Regions from separate parts of the Homo sapiens genome. Here region 2 is linked to region 1. The links come from fine-mapping of genetic effects on gene expression. Tissue or cell type: whole blood. Region 1 holds a variant in brackets; the other region holds the start of a gene. All regions are shown on one strand. Distances are from middle to middle.

The links. PIP is the estimated chance that this variant, and not a neighbour inherited with it, causes the effect.
Region 2: it holds the start of MRPL18, and the variant in region 1 is fine-mapped to the expression of MRPL18 in whole blood (TOPMed, PIP above 0.99). The same link has a PIP of 0.9 or more in blood mononuclear cells.

The regions. Positions count from the first base shown.
Region 1 is chr6:159,824,600-159,832,701 of GRCh38, reverse strand. No RefSeq gene overlaps it. Among named protein-coding and RNA genes, the nearest start is that of PNLDC1, 28 kb to the right of the region's middle. RefSeq lists an enhancer at 1,464-2,197. The variant C/T (reference allele first, on the strand shown) is at 3,027.
Region 2 is chr6:159,786,186-159,794,280 of GRCh38, reverse strand. It overlaps MRPL18 (mitochondrial ribosomal protein L18), which reads right to left and starts at 3,814. Exons shown (of 4, transcript NM_014161.5): 1 at 3,642-3,814; 2 at 3,155-3,341. The coding sequence starts at 3,693. TCP1 (t-complex 1) reads left to right here and starts at 4,679. Exons shown (of 12, transcript NM_030752.3): 1 at 4,679-4,876; 2 at 6,138-6,223; 3 at 6,410-6,538. The coding sequence starts at 4,813. RefSeq lists enhancers at 3,627-3,686, 3,717-3,896, 4,153-4,816, 4,817-5,481.

The sequences.
Region 1 (8,102 bases):
TAGACATGGAGTCTCCTTATGTTGCCCAGGCTGATCTCGAACTCCTGGGCTCAAGCAATCCTCCTGCCTCAGCCTCCCAAAGTGTTGGGATTACAGGTGTGAACCATTGTGCCCACAAAATAGGAAATTTAAAGGGAGGGGTGTGCATTGTTAGGGAACCCAGGCACCCTGGCCCTCAGCCTGGCCCTGCAGCTCTGGATGAGGCTCTCATCTCCTTCTTCCACCTTTCTGCTTTCCCTAATCCCCAATAAAGGAGAAACAACAGCATTGTGTCATTCACAGGCACAGAGATAAAACAATTTAGATACAACCAGATGGCAACTCTGATGCATGACAGGTGAAGCCCAAAATTGGGACTTAGCCCGGAAGGGTTCTTGGCTTCCCCCAGGAAAGAATTCAAGAGCTACCCAGTGGTGTTCAACAGCAACTTGTATTGAAGCCACAGCATCCAGGAGCAGCAGAGGCACTGCTCCTTGCGGTACAGGGCACTCTCCAGGAAGTGTGTCCAGAGGAGCAGCTCAGATTTAGGGCTGCACTAATATTTACACCCACTTTTAATTATACATGAATTAGGGGGTGGTTTATGCAGAAATTTCTAGGATGAGGGTGGTAACTTCCTGATCACTGGGTCATTGCCATGGAAAGGCGCAATAATTTTTGGGTGTCGCCATGGCAATGGTAAACTGACATGGCACACTGATGGGTGTGTTTTCTGGAAAACTGCTTCCCCTATAACCTGTTTTAGCTAGTCCTCAGTTTGGCCCGGTGTCTGAGCCCTGCCTCCGGAGTCAAGTCCCACCTTCTACCTCAACTCCACACCTTGGCTCAGGCCAAAACTTTATCATTCTTGACCCCTCTTTCTCTTAACTCCACATTCACTCTGTCAGGACATCATAGCAGCTCCACTGTCAAAATACACCCAGATCTAGAGCCCCTGCACACCTCCCCACTGGGCCACAGCCACCTCTTTTGCCTTCCTCCTTCCCTAGTCAGCCAGACCTTATCACCCTGAGCTGGCAGCCCCTCAATGGCTCACACCTCTGCTGAGAAGTCAAAGCAATCACCAGTGCCTTCTGTGCCCCACCTGACCGGCCCTCCACTTCTTCCCTGGCCTTGGCTCCTGCCTCACCCACCCAAGTTCTCTCAGCCATCCTGGTGGCTGGAGCCTCTTTGCAGGGCCAGGTGCTTCCACTGGGCCCTGGGCCAGACAGCACCTGGAGCTCTGTCCACAGCCGGGCAGGTGTCTCAGCCCTGATCTCTGCCAGGTCTCTGCTCAGGCATCCCCTTCTCTGCGCACCCTGCCTGAGCACTGGAAGGCAGCACCCGACTTCTCCTCCAAGTTTCTCTGTAACCAGCACTTGATCACCTCACAGGCACTCTCATCTCGTTGCTTGTCTAATGACTCCACACAAATGCAAATTCCTGAATCTTTGCTTTAATGGCTGCAGCCGGGGCATCTGGAACAGTGCCTGGTACAGAGCAGGTACATTTGCATGGAATGAAAGCCTGCGCTCCAGGGTCTTCCAGTATAAAACACATGCAGATTTTAGAGACAGGAACAAGCCCAAATTGATCAATAAGGGAATGGGAGAATGAGTGCTTCCCTTCCTTTTCTGTTTTACACAATACAATATTCCTTTTTTAGTCTTTAAAAAACTATAACCTCTGGCTTCCAGGAGTTCAGAACATCCCATCTGACTACGAGCACAGGTCTCAGCAGGGTCACGCAGGCAGTGGCCACTGCTGCTGCTCCACTGGGCTGAGGACACGGCCTCAGCAGCGAGGAAGGTTTGGGCAGCTCCCTGGGATGGGAAAGAAAGCATCTTTACAAGCTCACATGTCAAAGCCTCTGTGCCCTCCACAAACCCAGCCAGAGCCAACTTGAGAACAACTTTATCTGGCTTGTGCTGCCCAGAGAATACTTGTTTTTGGATCTCCACTTTCTCACGATCTTTGGCAGAGCCACATCACACACTGGGGGAGCTCTTCTGAGGATTAGGACTAAGTCTACACCAGGGATTCTCTCCCAGGGGAGAGTAGGGACAGAGTAGGCAGCTGTGTGCCAGAGAGCTCTCCTACTATCTTGCGCTCAGAGCAGGCTCGGCCCGCAGTTCCCCTCACAGTGTCTTCCTCAGAAACACTATTGCCAGCAGGCAAATGTTTGAATCTGGTTCTTCCTGTAGGAAAAAGGGATAAAGGCAAACAATAGCAAGAGCTGGGGCAGGGATGGGGCAGAATGAGGGACCTCTAGGGGAGCTTCCGAATGCTGAAATCGGGTGAAGCCATCCAGCACCGCGGCAGAGCTTCCAGAACAGCGACGCAGGAGACTGGGTGGATGGTGGGTGCTGGGTCACCGTGGTGGCCACGCAGTCTGCAAGGCCTGTAACCAGCTCAGCCGCATCAGACCCTGCTTCCTGGGCAGGGCTAACCCCACTCACTGCGCAGGGCTAACCCCACTCACTGGGGAGTATGAGGTAGGAATAGCACTTACCTGGGCAGGTGCTTCATCAGTGTGTCGCTGGAGAATGTGGCAGGCAGAATAATGGCTCCCCAAAGATGCCCAGTGCCCACAGCCTAACCCCAGAACCTGTGAGTATAGCACCTGATGTGGCAAGAGGGACTCTACAGACATAATTAAGGGCTTTGAGATGGGGAGTTTATCCAGGGTCATCCGAGGAGGAGGGTCCGCCTAATCACATGGGTCTTAAAGCATGGCAAAGCATTCCCTGCTGTGGTCAGAGGAGACGAAGCTACAGAAAGATCGATCAGAGAGATTCCACATTGCTGCTGCTGAAGATGGAGGAACAGGGCCACGATCCTGGGAATGTTGGTGACCTCTAGAAGCTGGAAAAGGGGAGGAAGCAGCTTCTCTCTGAGGCCTCTGGAAGGGCACACAGCCCTTCCGCCCCGACTTCTTGATTTTAGCCCCGAGAGCTGTGTTGGACTTCTAACCTCCAGAAATGCAAAATGGTAATTGTGTGCTATTTTAAGCCACTACATTTGTGATGACTTGTTACAGCAGGAAA[C/T]AGGAAACTAATGTAAAGAAGTAGGCATGACTGTGTCCAGTAAAATGCAATTAAATAAGAACTAAAGATATTTCACAGGGCTGTCCCCACAAGCAGGACAAGAGAGCTCTATTTTCAACAAAAAAATTTTAATGCATTTTCATGTTTAAAGTGATAGAAATACATGCTCATTGTAAAAAAAAAAATGGTAAAAAGATCCCTAAATATACAGAAAATAAAACCATATGGTCCACCTACTCTGGGTAGCCCCCACCAAGACTTCTGTGCGTTTTCTTTCAGCTTTAAGTTCACTTTTTTTTTTCTTTTCTTTTTTTTTTTTGGAGACAGGGTCTCACTCTGTCAGGCTAGAGTACAGTGGTGCGTGATCTTGGCTCACTGCAACCTCTACCTCCCAGGCTCAAGTGGTCCTCCCACCTCATTCTCCTGAGTAGCTGGGACCACAGGTGGGTACCATGATGCCCGGCTAACTTTTTGTATTTTTGGTAGAGATGGGGTTTTGCCATGTTGCCCAGCCTGGGATGGAACTCCTGAGCTCAGGCAATCCAACTGCCTCAGCCTAAATGCTGGAATTACATGTGTGAGCCACTGTGCCTGGCCTTTAAGTTCACTTTCATTTTTTATTTTTTGAGATGGAGTTTCACTCGTCGCCCAGGTTGGAGAGCAGTGGCGCGATCTCAGCTCACTACAGCCTCCGCCTCCTGAATTCAAGTGATTCTCCTGCTTCAGCCTCCTGAGTAGCTGGGATGACAGGCACTCACCACCACACCCAGCTAATTTTTGTGTTTTTCTTTAGTAGATACGGGGTTTCACCATGTTGGCCAAGCTGGTCTTGAACTCCTGACCTCAGGTGATCTACCTGCCACGGCCTCCCAAAGTGCTGAGATTACAGGCGTGAGCTACCACGCATGGCCGATTTCACTTTTAAAATATAACTGTCATCACTCAGATGCTAAGTTCTATGTACTAATTTTTTAAAAATAGTACATTTCTGGTTTTGAAGGGATGCACACTCAAGATTTTTATAGTACAGAAAAATATATGACAAAGAAATTCGAAATCACCAGGAGCCCCTCGAGAGATAACATTTTAACATATTTTATTAGTCTTTTTAAAGGATAACTGAGAATACCTTATATAGTACACCTTTTCTTGCCTACACAGGAATAATCACAGGTGTTAGAAGAGGGGAGAGATGATTGATTACAGGTTATTAGTGTTTCCTGCCAACCACCACCATCCCCCAGATTCCATCACAGAACAACAGTCCGAGTTATTTAAAGGTCAGCAATCCAAAGATCCAGATCACTCGAGTTCTTTGGCCATAAAAACAGGCAGCAGATGATGCTTGATATGGTTTGGCTCTTTGCCCCACCTAAGTGTCACGTGGAATTGGAATCCCCAGTGTTGGGGGAGGGGCCTGGTGGGAGACGATTGGATCCTGGGGGTGAACGGCCCCCTGCTGCTCTTGTGCTAGTGAGTTCTCTGGTTGTTTAAAGGAGTGTGGCACCTCCCCCTTCTGTCTTCCTCCTGCTCCAGCCATGTAAGATGTGCGGGCTTCCCCTTCGCCTTCTGCCATGATTTTGTTTCCTGAGGCCTCCCCAGCCATGTTACCAGTACAGTCTAGGGAACCGTGAGTCAAACCTCTTTTCTTTATAAATTACCCAGTCTCAGGTATTTTTTTTTCTTTTTTTTTTTTTTTTTTTGAGAGAATCTTACTCTGTCGCCCAGACTGGAGTGTAGTGGCATGATCGCAGCTCACTGCAATGTCCGCCTCCTGGGTTCAAGTGATTCTCCTGCCTCAGCCTCCTAAGTAGCTGGGATTATAGGCTCATGCCACCACGCCTGCTAATTTTTACATTTTTAGTAGAGACAGGGTTTCACCATGTTGGCCAGGCTGGTCTCGAACTCCTGACCTCAAGTAATCTGCATGCCTCGGCCTCCTAAAGTGCTGGGATTACAGGTGTGAGCCACCGTGCCTGGCAGGTATTTCTTTATAGCAGTGCAAGAAAGGACAAATACTCTATAGCTCTGTTCCTATGGAGAAGAGAAACAGTCTTTTGAGAACCACTCCTCCCTCCATACCTGGAGTGCTGCAGCAGCTCAGCACCAACTGTGGTTTCAAGAGCTGGACGAGTCTCAAGATGACAGGTGGGACACAAGAGCCACATGGCTGCAGCTGGAACAGAAGCCGCAGCCAAAGAGCAGCCTGGGAGAGCCCCAGGGCCCCACTCCGCCAGGAGGCGCCGGGGCTGAGCCTGAGCCTGAGGCACGAGCTGCAGTCCTGTGGATGCTGCCCGACTTGCCTTGTTTTTTTAAACCAGTTTGAAATTACACCATATATATTCACGATAGACAACTCCAATATAAAACAAAAAAAAAAAAAAAAGAAAATTGAAATAACTCATGACCCTGCAGGCAGTGTGGCATCAAGAGAAGCTGCCCACCGCTGGCCGGGGCGTGCCAAGGCCAAGCACCCGCCCTGTGGGTGTCAGGCGTCTCCGTCCTATGCGGGCACAGTGACAGTACTTGGAAGGTCACTGGGCAGTGAGAGTACTTACTTGGAAGGTTACTGTGAGGAGCACATGAATTAATAACTGCAAAGGACTTTATTCAGCATCGGGTGTGCAGTAATTGCTCAGCAATGTCATTCCCTAACATTTTGGGGTGCACCTTCTCAGGTTTTTCCAGTGTACTCATGACCACACTGTATGTGGTTGATACAGTTTGGATATTTGTCCCCCCTCAAATTTCATGTTGAATTATAATCCCCAATGCTGAAGGTGGGGGTCTAGTGGGAGGTGTCCGGCTCACGGGGCCAGAGTTCTCATGAACAGCCTGGGCCATCCCTTGGGTGATGAGTGAGCTCTGGCTCTGAGTTCACCCGAGATCTGGTTGTTTAGAAGTGTGTGGCACTTTCCCCTTCCGCCCCCTCTCTTTCTCCTGCATCCACTATCTGAAGCCTGTTCCTGCTTCACCTTCCGTCATGAGTAAAAGCTTCCTGAGGCCTCCCCAGAAGCAGATGCTAGCACCACACTTCCTGTACAGCCTGCAGAACTGTGAGCCAATCAAACCTCTTTTCCTACAAATTACCCAGTCTTGGGTATTTCTTTATAGCAGTGGGAGAACAGACTAACACAGTGGTTTTCCTGTGCTCATGACAAAAACATCCTCCCTGTCGCTCATCCTTAGGAATTGTTCTGGATTAGGTGCCCTTGGCGGGGACGCCCCAGCCCCTCCCTAGCCAGGACATGCTGACCTTTACAGCCATTGCTTGTGTACTGTCGCCCCACTAGACAGTGGGCAGGGACTGGGCCAGCCCCAGGCCCTCAGTGGTGCTGCCAGCCCACATGAGCAGGAGGCACCCCGCTCTGGAGAGAAGCTGCATTGTAGGGAAGGCACACTGGGGAGTTAGGGACACAAATCTACCTCTCTACATTATGATAAGCACTTGAAAGTACCAGGGGACAGAGGAGGGCCGATGGCTCTAACCGACGTGAGGAGGCGCAGGAGAGGACGAGAGTCTGCAGACCACCCGGCCCCAGCGCCGGCTCCTGCCTCTCGTCCACCACCACCAGCAGCATCCTCGTAACCCCCTCAGGGTAAACCGCCAAAAACTAGAGTAGCAGTTGCAGTGGCAGCAGCAAGGCCACCCCAGTTTTGCCAAAACTGTCCTGCAACTAACCCACCGTGACAATGCTTGCTTCCCATGTTCAAGTAGTTTTGGGTGGTTTTTAGATTTTTGGTTGTAAGTAAGCGTATTTTTCTGTATTTCACCCATTCCAAGACGCACTTTCCCTCCATTTCAACATCTTTGAGATCAGGGTGTATCTTAGGATGAGGGACAAAAACCTCCCCGGCAGCATTTATCCCTTAGTGGAACACAAAACAGTGGTCACTCTCCAGTGAAGGATGTCTCAGACAACATGAGACATGGTTGCACCAAATCAATCAACTATTTAATTACCACTTGAAGCTTTTGTTTCATGCTTAGAAAGCCCTTCTTCATCCCAAGATTAAATCGTTTTCATTTCCTTTTATATGATTTGCCTTTCTTAACCTTAAATATATGACATGTCTAATTTATTTTGGTGTAAGGACTAAAGAATTGGCTTTTTTTTTCTAAACGGCTCTTTGTCCCAGATTTAATATGGTACCTTTATCACAGCAAAATTCCCAGATGCACTCAGTCTATTTCTTACCTAGATTCTATTACTATGCCAATCTCACAATGTATTAATTATAACTTTACGCCATAGTCTCATCAACATGCAATTACAAAGGCACCAATTTTGTGCACATTAAGAAAACACCAATTAAATTAACACACACCATTGACTGTAAGAAATAACCCAATCTCAACGATGTGAAAATGGTAGAAAATGCACAGCTTGGATCAATGTACTCCCATACGGCAGGTGGGACAAGTCATCTTGGTCACTTATCTTTTTCAGAAGTTTCCTGATTGTTATATTTTCCCAAATAATTTTTTTTTTTTTTTGAGATAGAGTCTCACTCTCTTGCCCAGGCTGGAATGCAGTGGCACGATCTCGGCTCACTGCAACCTTTGCCTCCCGGGTTCAAGCGATTCTCCGGCCTCAGCCTCCTGAGTAGTTGGGAGCACAGGCATGCCCGCGCCTGGCTAATTTTTATTTTTATATTTATTTATTTATTTTTGAGATGGAGTTTCTCTGTTGTTGCCCAGGCTGGAGTGCAATGGTGCGATCTCGGCTCATTGCAACCTCTGCCTCTTGGGTTCATCACGTGATTCTCCTGCCTCAGCCCCCTCAAGTAGCTGGGATTACAGGTGCCCGCCACCATGCCTGGCTAATTTTTTGTATTTTTGTAGAGACAGGGTTTTACCATGTTGGCCAGGCTGGTCTCGAACTCCTGACTGCAGGTGATCCACCCACCTCGGCCTCCCAAAGTGCTGGGATTACAGATGTGAGCCACTCCACCTTGCTTCCAGCTAATTTTTGTATTTTTTGGTGGAGATAGGGGCTCAACATGTTGCCCAGGCTGGTCTCGAACTCCTGACCTCATGTGATCCGCCCACCTCAGCCTACCAGAGTGCTGGGA
Region 2 (8,095 bases), 38 kb after region 1:
CTACCATGAAGAATCTCCAAGATGTATTTTTAAGTGCGTGCTTGGGGTGGTTGAGGGTGGTGGTGAAGAAAGATGCGGAAGTGTTTATCGTATGCTAAGATTTATTGTTTTTAACAGTTTTTGCTTATATGCATAGACAATCTTTAGAAGGACACACAAGAAACTGTACTCCCTTTGGATTTTATAACATACGTATATGTTACCCTTTAAAAAGTCAAGTTTAAGTTAAAGAAAACACACCCAAATCATTAGATTCTCACTAGGATTCTCAATGTGAAATAGAAGAGGCATTAGATTTGGAAATATGGAGTCTACTCCTGGTTTTCCTGGTGGCTCTAGTAAAAAATCACAATCTCTTTTTTTTTTTTTGAGACGGAGTCTCAGTCTGTTGCCCAGGCTGGAGTGCAGTGGCGCGATCTCGGCTCACTGCAAGCTCCGCCTCCCAGGTTCACGCCACTCTCCTGTCTCAGCCTCCCTAGTAGCTGGGACTACAGGTGCCTGCCACCACGCCTGGCTAATTTTTTTGTGTATTTTTAGTAGAGACGGGGTTTCACCGTGTTAGCCAGGATGGTCTTGATCTCCTGACCTCGTGATCCGCCCGCCTCGACCTCCCAAAGTGCTGGGATTACAAACGTGAGCCACCGCGCCCGGCCAAAAATCACAATCTGTTAAACCAGGAGTCAACAATCTTTTTCCACAAAGTGCCAGATAGTAAATATTTTAGGCTTTCTAGGTCCAATAGCTTCTGTTGAAACTGTTCGACTCAGCCATTGTAGTGCTAGAACAGCCAGGTGATGCGTAAACAAATGAGAGTAGGTACAGCTAGGTTCTAAGAACCTGGGCAACGAAATTTGATTTTCATTTAATTTTCCCAAGCCACAAAATATTCTTTTGATTTTTTTTTTAACTTAAAAAAAGTAAAAACAAGTTTTTAGCTCACAATCTACCTTTGGCCCACGGGCCGTAGTTTGCTGACACTTGAACCATTTGTTCAATGAAGGGCCCGATTCATTATGTCAAAGGTCATTTCCTACTATAATATTCTGAAATTCTCTACTTTTAATATTGCGAGTAAGGCAGACAGAGAAAAAATGAGGAAATACATCTTTAGTTATTTTTAATGATCCAAATATTAAATCAAAGTAATGCGTTGGGGCCGAGTGCAGTGGCTCACGTCTGTAATCCCAGCACCTTGGGAGGCTGAATCAGGCAGATCTCTCGAGCTCAAGAGCTCGAGACCAGCCTGGGCAGCAGCAAAACCCCATCTCTACAAAAAATACCAGAAAAAAAAAAAAAGAAAAAGAAAAAAATTAGCCGGCCATGGTAGTGTGTGCCTGCAGTCCCAGATGCTCAGGAAGCTGAGATGGGAGAATCGTTTGAGCCTGGGAGGCAGAGGTTGCAGCCAGCTGATACTGTACCACTGCACTCCAGCCTGGGTGATAGAGCCAGAGCTTGTCTCAAACAAAACAAAACAAATTAGCTGGGAGTAATGGCATGCGCCTCTAGTCCCAGCCACTCAGGAGGCTGAGGTGGGAAGATTGCTGGAGCCCAGGGAAGTCAAGGATGCAGTAAGCAGATATCATACCACTGCATTCTAGCCTGGGCAACAGACCCAGACCCTGTCTCAAAAACAAAGAAAAAAGAAAGTAATAGGTTGGGTGTTTCAAAAGATTTTTAGCCTTAAGATCCAGATTATTTAAAAAGTGAACTGCCTACTCCCTTTCTTGGACTCCCTCCTCTATGAGTAAAAATGTATTACAGCAACTGTAACACATCATTATCCCCATTCCACTTTCCACTATGAAACTTAAGACTTTTGATGACAGGGATAACATCTACTTTATCTTTGTAACTCCTGCCTCTAACGCAATGCCTAGCAAGTGATACAGGTATGATGCTTGTTCAATAAATAAATAATACATCACACAGTAATGATTTCCAATTTACTCTTACAACTTTACATAGTACTTAAGAAGTCCTTAAGAAATTCTAAAAAATCCTCACCAAGCAGATAAGCAGCAGATAAACCTGATAAACACTTACATGCTGTAGTATAGTGGTAATAACCTAGCGTCCTGGCTCTGAGGTCAGTTAAAACATATGTAAATCTTAGCTCTGGCACTTACTAATCATGTCTCCCTAAACCTCAATTTCTTTGATCCTGTAAAATGGGGGAAATTATAACTGCTTCATGATGTAATTTTAAGGATTAAATGAGAAAAAACATATAAAGCAAGTAGCATAATTCCTGGCAAATGTAAGTGTTCATTAAACAACCACCTTTATAACAAAGTATCTCAAGTCATACTAGACTCCTAACTGGTCTTTCTTCAAGTCCTGCTCCCTCAAAAATTTAATCTTCCAAAAAGCAGCTAAAATGATTTTTTTTTTTTTGAGACAGAATTTTGCTCTGTCGCCCAGGCGCTCAGCTCACTGCAACCTCCGCCTCCTGGGTTCAAGTGATTCTCGTGCCTCAGCCACTGGAGTAGCTGGGATTACAGGCGTGCACCACCACGCCCCTCTAATTTTTATATTTTTAGTAGAGACGGGGTTTCACCATGTTGGCCAGGTTGGTCTCAAACTCCTGACCTCAGATGATCCGGCTTCTTCGGCTGGCTCCCTAAAGTGCTGGGATTACAGGCATGAGACAATGCGCCCAGCCAGAATGATCTTGAAAAACCAATTCGGGCTCAAGCTTTAAATCCTCTCGTAGTTTCCCACTATAATGAAAAGAAAGTCTAAAGTGCTCATCTTGACTTACAAAGCTAATCATCTGTCGCCTCCTTACCCCTCCATGTTCATCTTGGGCCATTCATCCTCTGCCCATTGAGCTTCAGATCCACAAGCCCTTCAGTTCCTCACCCCAGCAGTTTCCTTTGCTAGGACTGCTCTTTCTGGCAGATGACTAGGCTTCTTCCTCTTTCAGATCTCACCTTCTTAAATGTCACCTCAGACAGGCAGGTATCCTGTCCGCTACTGTAACATCCTCTTTAAATAGCCCCCATCACACCTATTTGTTGTTTGTTCCAGCCCCTCCGCGAACCCTGCCTCTACCCGCCGCATGGCAGCTACCTGGGAGAGTGCCTGGAGTTGAATGAATGAAAATAGTCTGTAGGGTGCACTGCCCTTGTCAATCACAAGCAGATTTAATTACCTGTGCCAGAACTCACGGGAGGGAAACACCGTCCGCCAGCCCCGCTCTTTCCTGGCTACAGATAAAAGCTCCAGGTTCCGGGGGTTCCGGTTGGTGAATTCTGGGGCGACAGCTTCATTTTCCACAGGGTCCACTTCAGGTTTCGCTGCCGGCTCGGAGCTGGTTGACAGGGCTGCGAACCTGCACCCTGGGCAACGGGAAAAACCGCACAGGGCTTAAAAATGACGGATATGGACAGCGCACGAACCCGCTCTAACGTCTATCCGCTTTTACACCCCCAATCTTTAGGCCCGAGGGGACGAAAAATACGTATGCCCACAGGGTGGAGTCAGCACTGACCCCGTCCTTAACTTCCTACTGTGGTCTTCGCAGTGCCGCGAGCTCTATTTCGATCCGGCACGTCGAATACAAAATAGAACCCGCACGTTCCAATGTACTGTGCAAGCCCAGGCGAGTGAGCTGGGAGAAGGGGGGCAAGACTAATTACCAGGGTTCCTGCAAACCGAGAACAACCCCCAAAACCGCGACCGAAGCGCCATCGCTGAGACGATCTCGGAAAAGCCTCGCCTCTTTTTCCTCACGGACGACTCAGTCGCTCGCCAGGAGCAGCCATATAAAGTCAGGGACAAGCCTTTGGCTGCTGTAGATCCCCAAACTCTCCACGCCAGACGCCACCGACCCGGAAGTAGCAAGTCCCCTGCCACTGAGTGGCCGAGAAGGCGATCTGTTATCCTTCATCGCCAATCATCGCTCACGTCGAGGGGCACGCAGGCCCTGGAGCCCACCAACCACCTCGTAGCTACGCCCAAGACCACGCTTGTTGCTTAAGTCCGGGGTCAAAGGCACACACCCCACAAAACCATGTTTGGGTTTTCTACTCGGAGAGCTTGGGCGGTCATCGACTGGTCCACACACACCCCACCTGGGCACCGCGTAGGAATAAGGCAGGGCAAGATGCAGTTTTCTCCTTAAAAAGGGTGGTTGTCTTCCTCGAACCAAAAATTTTCCCGTATGGCCCGCTGGAAAAACTGCCCCGTCCCACCCAGGTTCGCGCCCTTAAACTTACACTCCTGAGGCCTGGAGCAAAGCCGGCCGATCTGCCTCACGCTCCCCGAGCAGGGACAAGGAAAAGACACTAAACCTAAAACGCACGACTCGCTCAGAACCCCAACTCTAACTTGGAGAAGGGCCCGCCCCTCCAGTTACACCCCAGCTCCAAGCTCCACCCTTCTTACAACCTTTTCTAGAAGGCACTAGAATGGCCCACTGCGTCTGCGCAACATCGTTTGAGGCGAAGGTTCAACCTCTTCCCAGCGGTCCAACATCCGACTTCCGTTCTCCGCTTTCGCGCCCTTCCCATCGGCTATCTAATTGGACAAAAATGCCGACCCCGCCCCTTCCCCGGAGCCTCACTTCCGTCACAGTCCTGTTTCTCTCCCTGTTGTCCCTGCCTCTTTTTCCTTCCCGCCGTGCCCCGCGGCCGGGCCGGGGCAGCCGGGAAGCGGGTGGGGTGGTGTGTTACCCAGTAGCTCCTGGGACATCGCTCGGGTACGCTCCACGCCGTCGCAGCCACTGCTGTGGTCGCCGGTCGGCCGAGGGGCCGCGATACTGGTTGCCCGCGGTGTAAGCAGAATTCGACGTGTATCGCTGCCGTCAAGATGGAGGGGCCTTTGTCCGTGTTCGGTGACCGCAGCACTGGGGAAACGATCCGCTCCCAAAACGGTAAGGGCGGGCCGGGCCTGGGTCGGGTTTGCGGCCGGGGAGGGCCGAGTCCCACCGCGACCGGACCCCGGCTGCCCTCGTTTCTCTCCTTTACCTCCGCAGAAAGGGCCTCGGGGCCCCGCAGCCGGACCCAGCCCACCCGCCGTTCTCTGGGGCAGGGCGCTGTGGCCCCACTTTTCCCACAGCGAGGAGGAGCCCCGCCGCGCGCGGCAGGGTTTTGAGACCGGCAACGCGTGGATGTGGTGTCCGGGGCGGCGTTGGAAACGCGCCCTCCGCGGGAAAGCGGGCCTCCCGGGCTCGCACGTGCGGGCCACGCCTCGCACCCCCTTTTGTTTCAGGGCGACCCCCTGAGTGTCCATGTTAAACGCCAGGTTTTATTTTAGGACCATTTACCAGAAAAAGAGTAGGTCCATCCGCGCGCCCTCGGATGAGCCCGGTGCCCTGTCCGCCCGCAGCTGCAGTCGAGGTCGGGCGTCCGGCGTCCAGCCGTATCCGGGTTGACAGCTTCTTACAGTAGAGTTAGCCCAGGAAACGCCACTCGAGTGCATTGACCCCAGGAGACGGCAGCGCTAACTTAGCAGAGCGTTTGCTGTCAGGCCTTTGGATACCTACAGAGCTTACTGTTTCTTGATAGATTCCTAATTTTTTTCGTAAACAAATCTGAAAGTCACCACCTTCCCCGTTGACTACCGATTTCTCTCCTCACAGATAAAGAGAGTTTTAATGAGCAAAAAACTTGCAGAATCTGAAGGAAAAGGCTGGTATAGCTGTACGAAGTGGCAGAGCATGAAATTGGTGGTTATTACTTTTTTTTTTTTTCCCCGCCATCAGATTCCACCCCGCATCAAAGCTGTGCCAAATAGGCTCGCTTTGTTTAGGGACAGGGTCCCACCTGTCGCCCAGACGAGAGTGCCATCATAGCTCACTGCATTCTCCAAGCACAGGTCCGCGCCGCCGCATCCGGCTTTGTTTTTATTTTTTGTAGAAATGGGTTTCGCTATGTTGCCCAAAGGGGTCTCAAACTCCTGGCATCAAGCGATCCTCCTGCCTCGGCCTCGCAGTGTTGGGATTACACCTGTGAGCCACAGTGTCTGGCCCCATTTACACTCTTAGTAGGTGGTTTTTAAATAATTAACACAGATTTGTAGATTTGGGAAATACGGGGGCTGTTGGATGTCATTTACCTTTAGGCTGAAATTACTGTCTTTCAGAGTTGTGGCTTATCCTCATTTCTTTTTTATTTTTAATTGATTGTCTACAGTTATGGCTGCAGCTTCGATTGCCAATATTGTAAAAAGTTCTCTTGGTCCAGTTGGCTTGGATAAAATGTTGGTGGATGATATTGGTGTAAGTACACATAACTGTTGTGTTAGTTTCCTTAAAGTAAAACTATCTTCAGTGTTTTGCTATGTTCTTTCTTTGACTTTATCAGAATCCACGTACTGGAAGGTGATATTAAAGGTGAACGTGTATTATAATGGGGCTGTGTTGATTTCTATAAGTGGTTCATATTTTTTCCTGCGAATTTCTTAGGATGTAACCATTACTAACGATGGTGCAACCATCCTGAAGTTACTGGAGGTAGAACATCCTGCAGCTAAAGTTCTTTGTGAGCTGGCTGATCTGCAAGACAAAGAAGTTGGAGATGGAACTACTTCAGTGGTAGGTAGACTGGCTAAAGAATGATCATTTTTCTAAAAACGACCGACTTTCAGAAAGTTGAAGCCATAAGTGGGTCATTTGTGCTGTGTCAGAAATAAGTTACATATTCTGAATGCCCAGAAGATTGAGCAAGAAGAAAAAACAAAAGAAGTTACACATTTAAGAGGGGAAATAAGCTTCTTAGGTACAGATTCAGAAACAAAATTTGTAAGTTGATAGTTACAGCTAGTTTGTACAGTTTAAGTAGGAAAGAATTTGAGTTCATTTGACATAGCCCCATTGTTTTAAATGTTGGTATTCACAAGTTTTGAGGGCTTATTTTTCCTTTTATGGCAGTATTCAGACATCACACAGATTTTTTTATGGTCTCTCAAAAGTCTTGTTTCCTCCCCCATCACCCCTTGAGACTTGGAAAGCTCTCAACTTTTCTGATTATTTGGAGGATAAAATGTTACCAATCTGGGGGAGAAACAATGTTTTTATATTATTATTTTTAAGAGACCATCTGTAGCACAGTCTGAAGTGCTGCAGTGCTGTCATATCTCACTGCAGCCTGGAACTCCTGGGTTCAAGCAATCCTCCTGCCTTAGCCTCCCAGAGTGCTTGGGATTGCAGGCATGTGCCACCACAAGCAACTAATTAAAAACCTCTTTTTTTTTTTTTTAAGAGACAGGGTCTCGCTATGTTGCCCAGGCTGGTCTTGAACTCCTGGCCTCAAGTGATCCTCCCTTCTCGGCCTCTGTAGTGCTGGGATTACACGCATGAGCTGCACTCAGCCTGTTCTATTTTTTAAATCCTGACAGGTAATCTCAGGAATTCAAAATGGGAGTGTGAGAAATTAATAAATACATCATGATATGACAGTGTGATCTTACCGAGTCAGTAAATGTGATACACAGTATAAACTCTTCATAGATCATCCAGCATGCTGGTATAGTAGAAACACTATTGTTTGGTGAGAAAGATGTTAATTCTGGAGAAACTAGATAGTTTGTGGGGAAAATGTATTTCTAGATTAAACTTTAGCCATGAAAGAATGGAATCTACTCCTAAAATATGAATATGATCTTTGTCTAACTTACGATAATGTGATTTAACAAATGTAGTTTTCCTTCCATAAGAAGCTGACAGTCTTTTTGCTTTAAAAATATTTCTTAGTGTTTTATCAACTTGAAGAACTATCTTTTTTAAATAAAATAATAGCTTAATATAGGTCATATGAATAGTCACACTCGGTTTAGCTTCTGTTGAGCATTTTTTCTAAAGGTAATAGATGTGTTGTCTTTTACGGTTGTATTGATGAACTAGTTTCTTATTGCTGAACTAGTTTCTTAGAACATTTTTCTGGCTCCTACCCAGTTTTGGCCATTTGCATTTATAATACAATAAGACCTCACTGAACATCCACAGTGGCTTCATGGAAACTGACTTTAAGAGGAAAGATGATGTATAAAAAAACAAGTTTTCCTCCCCCCATCAGCGTTACAATAAACAACTGTATTTGAGAAATTGCTGTCCATTGTTTTGCTTAAAGTGGCAGTTTCCAAGAATTTATGA